3 linked regions of the Homo sapiens genome follow. The protein of the gene in region 1 purifies or fractionates together with the protein of each later gene. This does not show direct contact. Each region holds a gene or a part of one and is shown in the gene's direction. Other genes may lie near its edges.

Region 1 (3,654 bases):
GCTGAGTAAATGTTTATCACGGATGGAATTGAAACCTGGATCAGAATTTTATGATCTGTTGCTTTTAGTCACATTGGTATAAAATAATTTAATGAAATAAAGTCATTGGGAGGGGATTTGTTTCATAATTTTTTGGTCAGTGCTATAATACATGCATGTATCTGAGTATCTGAATGGCCTGGGTTTTTGTTAGTGGGTTGTTTTTTTTTTGTTTTGTTTTTTTTTTGAGACAGAGTCTCACTCTCTTGTCCAGGCTGGAGTGCAGTGGCGTGATCTTGGCTCACTTCAACCTCTGCCTCCCAGGTGGGTTCAAGCGATTCTCCTGCCTCAGCCTCCCAAGTAGCTGGGACTAAAGGCACGTGCCACCACACCCGGCTAATTTTTTATTTTTAGTAGAGATGGGGTTTTACCATGTTGGCCCAGCTGGTCTCAAAACTCCTGACGTCAGGTGATCTGCCCACCTCGGCCTCCCAAAGTGCTGGGATTACAGCTGTGAGCCACTGCGCCTGGCCAGGGTTTTTTTTTTTTAATTGGTAATAATAACTTCTTTTTTTCTTTTTTTAATGGGCAAATGGCATAAACCTTTAAGGGCAAGCATATTTTCCAGTCATGATAACAAAAGTGAAAGATATAATTCTAAATATTTGGCTTTGAATATTTGGTTTATTTATTGATGAAAAACAGAACGTAGACCATAGAGATATATACAGTATATAGAGGAGAGGATGATTAGTAATGGACTTGTGTTGAGAAACGTGCACTTTATAAAGTTTTCTAATTATGAAGCTATCCAGCGTCTTTTATACCACAAGCTGCACTAAGGTAGTTAGCTATGGCTAGAACATAGAAGGGAAGACATAGAAGGGCCTCGGTTTTGCATTTGACAGAGAGGCTCCAGCTTCTCTTTTTTTTTTTTTTGAATGTAGTTGATAGGGATGTTGAGATATTTATAGAAAACTTCTACAAGAGAAGTGTTTAAGGCTGAGTGCTGTAGCTTACACCTGTAATCCCAGCACTTTGGGATGCTGAGGCAGGTGGATTACGAGGTCAGCAGTTTGAGACCAGCCTGGCCATCATGGTGAAAGTCCGTCTCTACTAAAATACAAAAATTAGCCAGGCGTGGTGGTGGGCGCCTGTAATCCCAGCTACTCAGGAGGCTGAGGCAGGAGAATCGCTTGAACCTGGGAGGCCAAGGTTGCGGTGAGCTGAGACCACGCCATTGCACTCCAGCCTGGGCGACAGCGAGATTCTGTCTCAAAAAAAAATAAAAAGTGTTTAAACATAGCATACTATTTTTTGTTTTCTTGTTTTTTTTCGTTTGTTTGGTTTTTTGTTTGAGATGGAGTTTCCCTGTTGTTGCCCAGGCTGGAGTGCAGTGGCGTGATCTTGGCTCACTGCAACCTCCGCCTCCTGGGTTCAAGCGATTCTCCTGCTTCAGCCTCCCGAATATGGGATTACAGGCATGCACCACTACGCCTGGCTATTTTTGTATTTTTAGTAGAGACGAGGTTCCTCCGTGTTGGTCAGGGTGGTTCTGAACTCCCGACCTCAGGTGATCCGCCCACCTCAGCCTCTCAAAGTGCTGGGATTACAGGCAGGAGCCAGTGTGCCTGGCCTGTTTTCTTTTTCTCTTAGAGGCAGGGTTTCCCTATGTCATCCAGACTGGAGTACAGTGGCACAATCATAGCTCACTGTAGCTTCAGATTCTTGGGCTCAAGTGATCCTTTTGCTTCAGCCTCCAGAGAAGCTAGGACTGTAGGCATGCACCACACCTAGCTAATTTTTCTATTTTTTTTTTTTTTAGTGACAGGGTCTTGCTTTGCTACCCAGGCTGGTCTCGAACTCCTGACCTGAAACAGTCCTCCTACCTCAGCCTTCCAAAATGCTGGGATTACAGCTGTGAGCCACTGTGCCTAGCCAATATCTCATACTCTGTGTACTCACTTTTCATAAAAGTGGCCACATTTGAATAGTTTTCTTTAAATCTAAAATACAAGCTCTAATACTTTACATTTCAGAATTTTTGTACTTAGGAAAAGGCTTTCTAGGTCGTCACATTCAGTGTATTTTGTTGATGATAAGACATAACGCACACTGCCCATTTTATTTTCCTCTAGGTTTTATGGGAATTAGAAACCTTACGTCTCATAAATCACTTTGAAAAATCCATGAAGGCAGAAATTGGAGATGATGATGAGTTATATATAGTAGACAATAATGGAGAGATGCCACTGTTTGACATCACTGGGCAAGACTTTGAAAATAAGCTTCGAGTTCCTCTTCTTGAAATACTGAAATATCCTTACTTGCTTCTACATGAACGTGTTAGTGAGTATCTTGATGGTTCCTCAAGTTATATCAGTTTTATTATTTTAGTACCATAAGAATTTAGGCTTATCTATATTGCAAATTTGTTTGCTAAACATATAATTAGGATATATAATTAGGACTTCATTTTTTTTCCAACGTTTTTTATTTTTTGAGTTCAAACACAAAATACCTATTTTTGGGGCACAGTTCAAACTTATCTTGTTCAGAGGGTAACTGAAGATTGTTTTTATTTTTTTTTAGAGACAGGGTCTTGCTGTGTCTCCTAGGCCGAAGTGCAGTGGCGCAGTCATGGCCCACTGCAGCCTCTACCTCCTGGGCTCAAGTAATACTCCTGCCTGAGCCTTGTGGGTAGCTGGGAGTACAGGCGTGTGCCATTGCGTCCAGCTAATTTTATGTTGTGTTTATTGTAGAGATGAAGTTTCACTGTTGCCCAGGCTGGTGTTGAACTCCTGGGCTCAAGCAGTCCTCCCACCTCAGCTTCCCAAATTGCTGGGATTATAGGCACGAGCCACTATGCCTGGCTCTCAACATTTTATTGTGAAAATTTTTTAACATAGAAAAGTAAATTATACAGTGAACATGATATACCCATCACATAGTTTATACGGTTGTTAACATTTTGCTATATTTGCTTTATTACGTATCTGTTCACCTCTTTGTTCAATTATTAATAATTTTCATTCTCGCCGGGCATGGTGGCTCACGCCTGTAATCCCATCATTTTGGGAGGCTGAGGCAGGCAGAGCACCTGAGGTCAGGAGTTCAAGACCAGCCTTGCTAACATAGTGAAACCCTGTCTCTACTAAAAATACAAAAATTAGCCAGGTGTGGTGGCAGGCACCTGTAATCCCAGCTACTCAGGAGGCTGAGGCAGGAGAATCACTTGAACCTGGAAGGCGGAGGTTGCAGTGAACCAAGATTGTGCCACTGCACTCCAGCCTGGGTGACAGACAGAGACTCTGTCTTAAAAAATAGTAATAATAATAATTTTCATTCTTGTAGTATGTCTGTGGCAGGGTTTCTCAGCCTTGCATTGGTGACATTTTGGATAATCCTTTGCTGTGGGCTGTGCCGTCCATTGTAGGATGTGTAGCAGCATCCCTGGCCTTTGTCTACTAAATGCCGCTAGCACTCCCTATCTCCTTTGTGACAACCAAAAATGTCTCCAGACATTGCTGAATACCCCTTTTGGGGGGTGAGGTATAAAATCACCCCTGGTTGGGAAATGCTATTCTGTAGTAATTTTCATTAACCACTATGGCATGGCTTATTATAGCTGTCTAGATTTTGGTTGTTGATATTTGCATTTCATAATACGAATCT
Region 2 (3,654 bases), on another chromosome or scaffold:
TCAAGACCATCCTGGCTAACACAGTGAAACCCCGTCTCTACTAAAAATACAACAAAAAATTAGCCGGGCTTGGTGGCAGGCGCCTGTAGTCCCAGCTACTCGGGAGGCTGAGGCCGGAGAATGGCGTGATGAACCCGGGAGGCGGAGCTTGCAGTGAGTCGAGATCGCGCCACTGCACTCCCGCCTGGGCTACAGAGCGAGACTCCGTCTCATTAAAAAAGAAAAAGAAAAAGAAACTGGGTCAACTTCAAGACTTTAAGTCGTAAAGGTTTCCATCAGTTTGGTATAAGAGTTGAGTTTCCAGACTAATCAGAGGGAGGGTGTTAATTGCAAATTGTGTGTCCAAGCTCTTCCTAGTATCCTTTTTGTGCCTTAACAGAGCAGAATAGGAAAGGAAAAAAATCCCTCATTGCCCCCAAAAAATAAAATACTGGTTGTTTTCTTCTGTGATCAGAGTTGAGTTTCATCACTTCTTCCCTTCTAGGGTCACCTGCCTGGTTAAGGGTAGTCAGTCTGAACATTCATTCAGGATTTCAGTGTTCCAGCCTACTATCTCTGAGTTTCTTTAGTACTTACTCCATGTATCCCATGTGGTTAGGAGCTAGAGTCCTGCGTTTGAATTCTTGCTGTTCTACTTTACCCTGGGCAAGATATACATTCTTTTCAAGACTTGCTTTTCTCACCTGTAAGATGGGGATAATAATAATAATACCAATTTCACAGGGATATTTAGATCAAATGAGGGAATGCAGGTAAAGGATTCTGTAATTATAGGTCTTAATAAACGTTAGTTAATAGTCTGTTCTTACATGCTGTAGAGTCGATACTCCTAAACTTAGAATTAAAACTGCCTTCTAGGCCGGGTGCGGTGGCTCACACCTGTAATCACAACACATTAGGAGGCTGAGGTGGGCCGATCACTTGAGGTCAGGAGTTCAAGACCAGCCTGGCCAACATGGTGAAACCTATATTCTCTACTATTCTTTAGTAGAGAATTTAGTATTCTCTACTAAAAATAAAAATATTAGCTGGGCGTGGTGGCGGGCGCCTGTAATCCCAGCTACTCAGGAGGCTGAGGCAGGAGAACTGCTTGAACCCAGGAGGCAGAGGCTGCAGTGAGCTGAGATTGCGCCACTGCACTTCAGCCTGGGTGACAGAGTGAGACTCCGTCTCAAAAACAAACAAACAAACAAACAAAAAACTGCCTTCTAAAAGAACGAAGTTTCTGAGACCGTAACTAAAAATAAAAATTACTTTTGGATGAATAAAATGTAATTTTTCAGGAGAAAAAATATGTAATAGTTTCACCACTGAAATAAAACATAGGGTTTTTGAACACAAATTTCTCAGATTTAAAAATATGCATATTTCCTGTATAAAAGTTGAAAAGTGGGCAGTGGCTGGTGGTGCCTGTAGTCCTAGCTACTTGGGAGGCTGAGGATCCTTTGAGTCCAGGAATTTGAGGTCAGCCAGGACAATACAGGGGGACCCCATCTCTTAAATCAGACAAAAATAAAAGTAGAAAAAAATATTAAATAAGAAATTTGGAAAGTGGTAAAAACTTTTAAGACAAAATTACCTTAGTCTCAGCTGGCAGAACCATTGTAACAAACTGGAACAGTGGTTTTGTTCCTTATTTTAAATTTAAATTCTAAAAGCAGTACATATTTATTATAAAAGGTTCAAACAAGTCAATTAAATATTTAAAGAGTGAAAATTCTTTGGGAGACTGAGGCAGGAGGATCACCTGAGCTCAAGAGTTGGAGGTATAGTGAGCTATGATTGCACCATTGCATTCCAGCCTGGGTGACAGAGCAAGACCCTGTCTTATAAAATTCTTAAAAAGTGAAAATTACTTTCTCTTTTTAGTCCCATTCCTTAGAAGTACCTACCCGCTGTTAATAGTTTTACTTACTGAGTTAGAAATAAGTAGTACCTTTTGTGTGTCGGATACTTTTTATGTTGATTTTAAAATAAAAAATCTGATCATTAAGTATTGTTTTCCATATCATGACATATAGTGGCACCTCTACTTTTTAAGTCATTAGATATTATGCTGTATGGTAGTACTTTAATTATTTGTGATCATTTATGTTATTTCTAACTTTGAGCAACTAAAACTAGAGCCTTAATGAACTTATACGTATGTCTTTGTGCACATGCATATGTAGATAAGTATTTCCATTAAAACGACTTGTAAGTGTGCATTTAAATTTCTTTTTTCTTTTTTTTTTGAATTGCATTCCAAAAAGACTTGTAATGTATATTTCCTTATTGAGTTGTAGAAGCTCTTCACATGTAATAGATATTAATCTATTGCCTTCTGTTTAAGATCTTCCTCATTCCACCTTTACAAAAAACATTCTTATGTGTTTTCTTCTGGTACTTTTAATAATTATTGTGTTTCAATCTTTTTTTTTTTTTTGTGACAGAGTCTCACTCTGTCACTCAGGCTGGAGTGCAGTGTTGGATCTCAGCTCACTGCAACTTCCGCCTCCCGGGTTCAAGTGATTCCCCTGCCTCAGCCTCCCGAGTAGCTGGGATTACAGGCACCATACCATCGCACCCAACTGATTTTTTTTTTTTTTTTTTTTTTGTAGAGACGGGGTTTTGCTATGTTGGCCAGGCTGGTCTCAAACTCCTGACCTCAGGTGATCTGCCTGCCTTGGCTTCCCGAAGTGTTGGGATTACAGGCGTGAGCCACCGTGCCCAGCCCATTGTGTTTCAATCTTAATCTTTCTGGAATTTTTTCATGCCTGGTGGGGATAAAAGAGTTTTAAAATAGTTTTGCTACAGAAATAAAATACAGGTATAAAAATATTTGGCCGGGTGCAGTGGCTTACGCCTGTAATCCCAGCACTTTGGGAGGCCTAGGTGGGTGGATCACCTGATGTCAGCAGTTGGAAACAGCCTAACCAACGTGGTGAAACCTTGTGTCTACTGAAAACACAAAAAATTAGCTGGGTGTGGTGGTGCACACCTGTAGTTCCAGCTACTCCGGAGGCTGAGGCAGGAGAATTGTCTGAGCCCGGGAGGCGGAGGTTGCAATGACCTGAGATCAAGCCACTGCACTCCAGCCTGGGCAACAGAACGAGACTCCATCTCTAAGTAAAAAAAAAAAAAGAAGAAGTAGTAACTAGATTTTTCTGTTCATTGGTATTTTTATTATCTTACTGGACTTCAGTAAACGTCTTTATTTTGTTTTCCAGGTTCATTGTTTTATCTGAGAATAATAGTAACTTCAGTCACTTTTCTATGGTTACAATATTTAACCTTTTTTTTTTTTCTTTTTCTTTCTTTTTTAAAGACGGGGTTTCACCGTATTAGCCAGGATGGTCTCGATCTCCTGACCTCGTGATCCGCCTGCCTCAGCCTCCCAAAGTGTTGGACAGGCATGAGCCACCGTGCCCAGCCCTTAACCCTGTTTTAGGTCTTTATTACATTGGCCTGAAGTTCCAAGACTTGGTTAAACAAGAGACGTGTCGTTGTCTTGAAATGACTCTGGTATTAATATTTTTACAGTTAGGGATGATGGCAGCTGTTGGATTTAGAGAAAGATTATTATTTTATTCTGTTTCTGCTTTACAAAAAATAGGAATGGCTTCTGAATTTTATGAGATGCTATTGTAACATTTAGATGATGATATGGTTTTC
Region 3 (3,654 bases), on another chromosome or scaffold:
GATTTGATTAAGAAGGAGGCAGTATGGGCCAGGCGTAGTGGCTCAAACCTGTAATCCCAGCACTTTGGGAGGCCAAAGCAGGTGATCACCTGAGGTCGGGAGTTCGAGACCAGCCTTACCAATATGGAGAAACCCATCTCTACTAAAAATACAAAATTAGCCGGGCGTGGTGGTGCATGCCTGTAATTCTAGCTACTCAGGAGGCTGAGGCAGGAGAATCGCTTGAACCCAGGAGGCAAAGGTTGCGGTGAGCCAAGATCATGCCATTGCACTCCAGCCTGGGCAACAAGAGCAAAACTCCATCTCAAAAACAAAAACAAAAACAAACAAACAAACAAAAAACATGGAGGTAGTATGATGAATAACAGAGTACTGCAGGAACAAACAGTAGGAGGCAAAGCACATTAGGGATCAGGGACTTGGCTTCTATTCTGATTCAGCCCCTTATCAGGTGTGTGGTCTTGAGCAAAGAATGTTACTGCTGAGTTCGGTTTGGAAGTTTTTATAAATAGCATTTATTTGATGCCTACAATTTCTAAATAAATTGGTTTTTGTTATGAGAAAATACAGTCATGCATTAACTAATGATGGGGATACCTTCTGAGAAATGCATCATTAGGTGATTTCATTGTGTAAACATCATAGAGTGTTTGTCACACAAACCTAGAAGGTATAGCCTACTACATACCTAGGCTATACGGTATAGCCTACTGCTCCCAGGCTGCAAACCTGTACAGTATATTACTGTGCTGAATATTGTAGGGAAGAGTAACACAATGTTATGTATTTGTGTATCTAAACATAGAAAAGGTACAGTGAAAATACAGCATAAAAGATAAACCATCATACACCTGTATAGGGCACGTACCGTTAATGGAACTTGCAGGAGTAGATGTTGCTCTGGCTAAGTCAGTGATGAGTGGTGAGTGAAAGTAAAGGCCTAGGACATTACTGTACACTACTGTAGACTTTATAAACACTGGATACTTAGGCTACACTAAATGTATTTAATAATAAATTAAACTTAGCATACTGTAACTTTTTACTTTATAAACTTTTTGACTCTTTTGTAATAACACAGTGTAAAACAAAAAACACATTGTATGGCTATACAAAAATATTTTCTTTTTTTATACTCTTATCCTATAAGCATTTTTCTGTTTTTAACTTTAGAAAAAAAAAAAACCTTTCTGTTAAAACCAAGACACAAACACACACATTGGGCTACACAGGGTCAGGATAAATATTGCCATCTTCCACCTCTACATCTTGTCCCACTGGAAGGTCATCAGGGCAACACCACACATGGAGCTGTCATCTCCTATAATAACGGTGCTTTATTCTGGAATACATCTTAAAGGACCTGCCTGAGTCTGTTTTATAGTTAACTTTTTTAAAAAAATAAGTAAGAGTATACTCTAAAATAATGATTGAAAGTATAATGTAGTAAATACATCAACCAGTCACACAGTCATTTATTATCACTATCAAGTATTATGTACATCATTGTATGTGCTAGGCTTTTATATGACTGACAGCACAGTAGGTTTGTTTATACCAGTATCCCCACAAACACATACGTAATGCATTATGCTGCAATGTTACAATAACATTACTAGGTGATAGAAACTTTTCAGCTCCATTATAATCTTTTGTTGTTGTTATTTTGGGTTTTGTTTGAGACAGAGTCTCACTCTGTTGTGCAGGCTGGAGTGCAGTGGCACTATCATAGCTCATTGCAGCCTTGAACTCCTGGGTTCAAGCAATCTTTCTGCCTCAAACTCCTGAGTAGCTATGACTATAGGCACGTATCACCACACCCAGCTAATTTTTTATGTTTTGTAGAGACGGGACTTTGCTATGTTGCTCAGGCTGATCTCAAGCTCCTGGCCTCAGGTGATCCTCCCGCCTTGGCCTCTCAAAGTGCTGGGATTACAAAGATAAGCCACTGCACTCAGCTGTTCATTACAATCTTATGAGACCACCATCGTATATGAAATTGGTCATTTACCAAAACATCGTTATTCAGTGCATGGCTGTAGTTTTCAATTTGGGAGCTAAAATGAGAATCAGTCAAAGTATGGGGCTCTGGAAGAGGGGGCTGCAGCTTTGAGGCTTTCCTTCTCTGCAATCTAGGAGGCTCTGTCCCCTGCCCTCTCTACCTTCCAGCTCTAATCCCTCTCATGCTGAGGCCATAGGTGTGAGTAATTCAGTCCTGTTCAATCCAATTCGATTTTATCTAAATCTGCTTGGCTGTGATGTGGTGGTCCAAAGATTAATCCATCTTTTAATAGACAATGACACAAAAGAATGGGGTCAGCCTCCCAGCCCCTCTGCCTCACACAGGTGTCCCTCCTATGAGCTCCAACAGCACCTTATACATCCTTCAGCCTCACTCCTTATCACATCTGTTTATGTATCTGAGTTTACTTCCCCACTGTGAGCTCTCAAATGGCAGGGATCTTGTCATGTTCATCTCTTTGTCCCCAGTGCCTAGCACAAAGGGAGTCCTCTGTAAATGTTTATAGAGTGAGAATGAATGTTTGGAGAGAATTAAAATACAAGGCAGAAGTAAAATAGGCTGTAATAGTTGTGTAAGAAACAGGCATGGGTCAGAGAAAGAGGAGAGTAGAAGGGCCTTACAGAAGGGCCTTACAGAAGAAGTAGCAGTCAATTTGAGTCTTGACCAACAAGGGATGAATAGGAATTCACCAGATACAGAAAATAAGCTTGTGATGAGGGGTAGAAGTTGTGAGGAGGGTTGGTAAAAGAGTATTCCGGTCTGAGAAACCAGCTTGAGCAGGGAGAGAGTCACAAGTGCAAATGATGCATTCAAGAAATTGAGTCATCCAGTGGCTTGCTTAAATGCCTGCTGTACAGGGAGGGGGTGGGAGAGAAAGAAGTCCCTTCTGGGAGGATCTTGATGATATTCTGAGGGGTTGCAGACAGTAGAGAGTAAGTGAAGTATTTTTTTTTTTTTTTTTTTTGCTTTTGTTTTTAGAGAATAAAGACATGATCTGATGTGATTCAAAAGGTAGTGGGTTGTCAACAGTGTAGAATACTCTAGCGGGGTCAAATAGAGTAGGCTAAGAAAGGACCTTTGAATTTAGCAGTTAAAGATTAGTGTACTTGGGAAGAAGTATGCACTGATAGGGCACAGAATATTGTATTGTAATGGAATGAAGAGTAAATGAGAAGACACAAATATCCTCTTAAGAAGTTTGTCTGCAGAAAGAAGGAAAGATTTGGAACGAACCTTGAGAAGAGACAGGCTTTCTTAAGGAAGGGCAGAGTTGGGCCAATTTAACCAAACCTCAAGGGGTTAGAAGGCTAAAGGATTCAAGTTCACCATTTACTGAGCAGTTCATCGGTGGGGAATGTAGGCATCTGGCTGGGTAGTGAGGGTTGGGGATAAGACGGAAGGAGGGGGATTTGACTGAATGAAGGCTGACCCCCTACTGCCACCTCTCCCTTTTCTTACCCAGAATTGGAGCTGGCCATTAGAATCACTCTTTACGCAGTGATCTTCCTGATGAGCGTTGGAGGAAATATGCTCATCATCGTGGTCCTGGGACTGAGCCGCCGCCTGAGGACTGTCACCAATGCCTTCCTCCTCTCACTGGCAGTCAGCGACCTCCTGCTGGCTGTGGCTTG

Evidence for each region.
Region 2: the proteins of SETX (region 1) and PAK2 purify together in Homo sapiens (affinity purification with mass spectrometry; one large-scale study listed by BioGRID and IntAct). This does not show direct contact.
Region 3: the proteins of SETX (region 1) and CCKBR purify together in Homo sapiens (co-immunoprecipitation; one large-scale study listed by IntAct). This does not show direct contact.

The regions. Positions count from the first base shown.
Region 1 is NC_000009.12:132,344,935-132,348,588, reverse strand, and holds part of SETX (probable helicase senataxin), read left to right. Parts: intron 1-2,117; coding exon 2,118-2,328; intron 2,329-3,654. UniProt on the Homo sapiens protein: Probable RNA/DNA helicase involved in diverse aspects of RNA metabolism and genomic integrity.
Region 2 is NC_000003.12:196,742,709-196,746,362, forward strand, and holds part of PAK2 (serine/threonine-protein kinase PAK 2), read left to right. Parts: intron 1-3,654. UniProt on the Homo sapiens protein: Serine/threonine protein kinase that plays a role in a variety of different signaling pathways including cytoskeleton regulation, cell motility, cell cycle progression, apoptosis or proliferation.
Region 3 is NC_000011.10:6,266,184-6,269,837, forward strand, and holds part of CCKBR (gastrin/cholecystokinin type B receptor), read left to right. Parts: intron 1-3,485; coding exon 3,486-3,654. UniProt on the Homo sapiens protein: Receptor for gastrin and cholecystokinin. The CCK-B receptors occur throughout the central nervous system where they modulate anxiety, analgesia, arousal, and neuroleptic activity.